2 separate regions of the Homo sapiens genome follow, and region 2 is linked to region 1. Evidence: fine-mapped expression QTL. Tissue or cell type: whole blood. Region 1 holds a variant in brackets; the other region holds the start of a gene. All regions are shown on one strand. Distances are from middle to middle.

Evidence for each region. PIP is the estimated chance that this variant, and not a neighbour inherited with it, causes the effect.
Region 2: IQGAP2 starts here. The variant in region 1 is fine-mapped to the expression of IQGAP2 in whole blood (INTERVAL, PIP above 0.99).

Annotation. Positions count from the first base shown.
Region 1 is chr5:76,609,741-76,612,405 of GRCh38, forward strand. IQGAP2 (IQ motif containing GTPase activating protein 2) reads left to right here. Exons shown (of 36, transcript NM_006633.5): 13 at 1,280-1,443. Among named protein-coding and RNA genes, the nearest start is that of F2RL2, 12 kb to the right of the region's middle. The variant T/C (reference allele first, on the strand shown) is at 1,286.
Region 2 is chr5:76,402,075-76,404,880 of GRCh38, forward strand. IQGAP2 (IQ motif containing GTPase activating protein 2) reads left to right here and starts at 1,211. Exons shown (of 36, transcript NM_006633.5): 1 at 1,211-1,517. The coding sequence starts at 1,472. RefSeq lists silencers at 893-1,242, 1,413-1,522 and an enhancer at 1,176-1,676.

The DNA of each region.
Region 1 (2,665 bases):
TCATTAATATCTAGTTTCTTTAACAGTTCTTATCCATCAGTACTAACCTAGGAAGCAAAAGCTCCTTGGCAGTGTGTGTATATGTGTGTTTTATATATATATGTGTGTGTGTGTGTGTGTGTGTGTCTGTGTGTGCATGTCTATCTAAATGCATTTTTTTATGAATGGATGATAGTTTATTTTTTAATAATAAGGTATTGAGAAGTAACCTCCAGATAGATCCGTTTCATTAGAATTGTAAAAGCAGGTTTCATAGTTTGACTTCTGTGCTTTTCATTTGTGAACCCTATAGTCAGTCTTGTTCTCTCTTTCTCTCTCTCTCTCTCTCTCTCTCTCTATATATATATATATATATATATATATATATATATATATTTTTTTTTTTTTTTTTTTTTTTTTTTTTGGTGGGGGGAACAGAGTCTTACTCTGTCACCCAGGCTAGAGTGCAGTGGTGCAATCTTGGCTCACTGCAACCTCTGCCTCCTGGATTCAAGTGATTCTCCTACCTCAGCCTCCCAAGTAGCTGGGACTTGAATAGACACTTCATTTCTTTAAAGATGATGTACAAAGGGAAAATAAACACATGAAAAGATGCTCAAAATCATTAGTCACTAGAAAAATACAAATCCAAACCACAGTATGATACCACTTCACACCCACTAGGATGGCTGTAATGAAAAAGACAATAACAAGTGTTGGTCAGAATGTAGAGAGCTACTCAGGAGGCTGAGGCACAAGAATCACTTGAACACAGGAGGCGGAGGTGGCAGTGAGCCAAGATCATGCCACAGCACTCCAGCCTGGGGGACAGAGCAAGAATCTCTCAAAAAAAAAAAATAAAAATAAAAACCAGCAGCTGGGACCTTGATAGAAGTTGCATTGAATCTGTAGGTCAATTTAAGAAGTATTTCCATCTTAACAATACTAAATCTTCCAATTCATGAACATTGGCTCTTTTCATTTATTTGTCTTTAAGTTTTTTCCCATGGTGTTGTATAGTTTTCAGTGTACATGTCTTATGTTTCTTTCATTAAATTATGTCTAAATATTTATTTATAATTATAATGTATTTGTAGTTGCAGTCTTATGAATTGAATGTGTTCTTAATTTTATTTTCAGATTGCTTATTATGAGCGTATAGACACATAATTGGTTTTGTGCTTGCATCTTGCATCCTATAGCCTTGCTGTACTAGTTAATTAGCCTTTTGCAATCGGTGATACTAAAGAAGTTATAATGTACTGTGACTTAAAAGGAAAACTACTTCTTCATTTTCTAGGAGTTG[T/C]AGCTGTAGGGTACATCAATGAAGCTATTGATGAAGGGAATCCTTTGAGGACTTTAGAAACTTTGCTCCTACCTACTGCGAATATTAGTGATGTGGACCCAGCCCATGCCCAGCACTACCAGGATGTTTTATACCATGCTAAATCACAGAAACTCGGAGTAAGTTTTAGTATATCTGTTTCTTTTAAATTTTACAGGCTGGGTGGCAGAGGGAGAGAAGGAGGAGGATTTGACCCATTTACGTTAAATCTCATGAGCTTCTTGTCCCAACAATTACCCATGAATCAGAATGGAAATAATAGAGCTGTTATTTTCCTGGTAACAAACATTGGGGGGAAACCAGCTCCAGAGCTATTTATTGCTTTAATTCTTTGACTAAAAACTCAGTTGTAGGTGAGTTCTTGTTCAGAGTTCAATTCATTGACTATTTCCTTAGTAGATACTATGTGCACACTTCAGTCCATAGCTTCTGGTAGAGAAGATGGGGATACAGAGGGACACATAATACCATTTGAATGTTCTCTGACCTTATCTTCAAAATGCTTAGAAACTGATTGAGGCAGTGGACATTGTCACATGGAACAGTCAAGTAATAGTAAAGATAAGGGTGTGCAAAGTGTCAAAATGAGAGATACACAGATTGATTCACGGATGTTTGAGATTGTCGGGGACTAGAATCCTAAGAGAAGTTGGTGTGGAGGTAGAGCAGAAGCTGTCCTCTCGAAGACTAGTGGCTTTTTCTGAGTACAGAGCTTGTACCGCTATTATAAGGAGCCCCACAAAGACTGGCCTCTGTGATAAGGCCAATGGGCTGAGTGGTGAGGCTGATATGATCTGTCACCTAAGAGTGGGAGTGATGCCACCTGGGACCTAGCTACTTATGGCTGCCATGTCTTCAGGTGCAAACCCAACTGAAAGGGCGGTCATCTCCTCTGTCTAGGTCTTTAGAACCTAGGAACTGCCTCATTCGAAACAGGAAAAACATCCTTGGTTAATGCAAACATTTATTGAGAACCTACTATTTGTCAGGCATGATATTAGATACTCATGTGTATCATCTCATTTAATCATCACAACAATTCATAACAGCCTTCTGAACCATTTTGCCATCATTATTGCCATCTTACACATAATGAAACCAAGATTAAGTAACTTGTTGAAAGCTATCTAAAATGTGACCGGGCACAGTAGCTCACACCTGTAATCCCAGCATTTCGGGAGGCCAAGGCAGGTGGATCACTTGAGGCCAGGAGTTCGAGACCAGCCTGGCAAACATGGTGAAACCCCATCTCTGCTAAAAGATAAAAATAAAAAATAAAAAATTAGCCAGGTGTGGTGGCTCACACCTATAATCCCAGCTACTTGGGAGGTTGAGGGACAA
Region 2 (2,806 bases), 210 kb before region 1:
TTTCCATCCCCCCACCGCCTCCGAGGGTCTTGCACTCTCACCCAGGCTGGAGTGCACTGGTGCAATCACAACCCACAGCAGCCTTGTCCTCTCGGGCTCAAGCAATCCTCCCACCTCAGCTTCCTGAGTAGCTTGGGACTGCAGGCGCAACCACCACGCCCGGCTAATACGGCTAATATTATTTTTTCATTTTTTGGAGAGACGGGGTCTCGCTATGTTGCCCAGGCTGGTCTGGAACTCTTGGGCTCAAGGGATCCTTGTGCCTCGGCTTCACAAAGTGCTGGGATTACAGGCGTGAGCCGCCGCGCCCGGCTCTAAATAATTTCTTATCGCCCTCCCTCAGTTTGTTTTTCCTGTTATCGGGTCACCCACACATTCCACAATTGTCAAATAGGTGAGGGCACAGGTACGGAAGCGTCCCGCATTCCCTCCAGATTTTATCACGCTGAGACACAAAGAGAAAAATAGCTCCTGGCGACCGCATGAAAACCCCGATTTCAAAACAGCCACATGCAGTTTAATTTCCTTAAAAGCTTAGCCGGAAAAGGTTTCTGTGGCTTGCGACCCCAGCTGGGCTTGAGAGAAGGCTCTGCACACTGGGGCGGGGGCGGGCACAAGGTGATCGGAGGGAGGGGGATGACTCGCAGTTGTGTTTTGAGTGGTTGCCTTGGGTTATCTTGTTCCTCCAGCACACACACACTCAGTTTCTTGTCATAAGGGGAACCCTGTTATTTTGTAGACAAAAAGTGACAGAAGCAACTTTCGAAGCAAAAAAAAAAAAAAAACAAAAAAAAACAAAACCAAAAAGACGAAGAAGAAGAACAAAAGTCAACGTGAAATCTCCCCAGAGGAAAAGGAACCGCGCTGTTTGTCCCTCAGTAACTGAGCAACACCCCGGACACGAAGGGCTCCCTGTGACTTCTGCGGTTTTTCTTGCACTTCTCCGCGTTGGTTCACTTCCACCCTCGAAACTCTCCAGAAGCGAGAAATAAGGCGGGGTGGCCGCCACCCCCAGGCCACCAGCTGTGCGGGGGCCCCAGCTGCAGGGGGTCCCGGCCCAGCGTCCCTCTCGGCCCCTTCCCTCTCCCCCGGGGGAGAAGGGGCGGGTCCACGCGGCCTGGGCGCTGCGCCCGACACGCGGTAGGGGTCGCTGCGTCTCGGCGCGCGCTCCCACCGCGGTGAATAACGGGGCCTGGCTGGAGGAGAAAGGAAACCTGCTGCGGGAGGCGGCGGCGACCGGCCAGGGAGCGAGGGAGGAGAGTTCACTTTTACTTCAGTGTCAGCGCGCGGCGGCCGTGGCTGGCTCTGGCGAGAGAGCACCGAGGGAGTGGGTCGCAGATCTTCGGGCGGCTAGGGGAAATCGGCGAGAGGCGGGATCCGAGCGCGCCGGCGGGGCGCAGAGCCCGCGAGCCTGGCCAGCGAGGGTAGCCGCGGGGGGCGCGCCCCGGGCGGGCCCCCGGAGACGCGCAGGATGCCACACGAAGAGCTGCCGTCGCTGCAGAGACCCCGCTATGGCTGTAAGTGCGCCGGGCGCGCGGGGTTCCTGCTGGCCTTGGGGAGCTCCCTCCCCGAGGACGGCGTTGGAGAAGCCGAGGGAGCCGGTTGCGCGGCGCAGAGGAAATTGGAAGGCAGCAACTGCGCGGCTGGCAAAGTTGGGAGCTGGAGTTGCAAAGGGCAGTGAATCGCGTCCCCCCGCTCCTCCCGCCCCCCAATTCCTAATATCCAGCTGGCAACCCAGACCCTCCACTCCGCATACCCAAACGGGGTGCGCGGGCAGTGCGGGGATTGCGCTCTGGGACAGACCAGGTTGGGATTTTAGGGGTATCAGGTGAGGAGTCCGCGGAGCTCCGGGTCGCCGCCGGCTTGGGCCAGGGGGTGGCGTAAGGCACCGGATTCTTCCAACCCAGAAGGGGAGGAAAGTTTGTTTGCTGTGGCTACAGGTGGGCACCGCAAGTAGGGCGCCGGCGCACTCTGCTAGTGCAAAGCCGGCTTGACTGGAAGGGCGGGAGTCTCCTCCTGTCCCGCGCCCTCGAACTTCACCTGACCCGCTAGAGCCATTGGCCTCACAGGTGTAAGTCCCTCCCCTCTGAAACCCCCCAACCCCTTTCCCCCCCGCTCCCCTCGCGCGGGAGGATTGCTGTGTGGAGAGGACGCGGCACTAGGCTCCGGGGAATCCGGCGGGAGCCCGCGTGACTTGAACGAGATGGTGTCGATTACCCAGCCAGGGGCTGCCCTCGGAAATAGGTTGCTTTGGCCGATCGTGAGTGGATGGAGCCAGATTAACACCAACCACGTGGCTTCATGTGCAGAGTTCAGAGTCCTAAACATGTGCCAGGAAGCATTTCCTTTAAAACAAACAGAAAGTTGGCCTGCTGTCTCTCCAAGGTGGCCCTGTCAGTGAACCCAAGGCCGAAGACCACAGGTTAATCTTTGCCCAGGCTGGCCTTGGTGGCAGAGGTACCAGGTTTGGGTTAAGGTGGTGATACCTTCAGCAGGGTGTTTTGTTTGTGTGTGTGTGTGGTTTTGGATGGTGCGTAAGGCCACTGACTTGCTTAACTGAAAAAGGGCTCCTCAACTTGTGTAGGTTCTTTCCCCTCCTCCCCGCTGGCGTGTCAAAGATGGGAGGTTATCTTTCCTGTGTTACCCTTGCAGTGAGGGGGAGGCCTGAGGACTACAGCCTCTGTACTCTAATGCATTCAGCAGTTGACTGAGACCCAGCTTTTTGCCTTTTGGTAAACCACACAGACAGCAGAGCCTCTTGGGTTCAAGAGGGAACGCTGTGCTCATTCAGTGTTTGCAGTGCCAA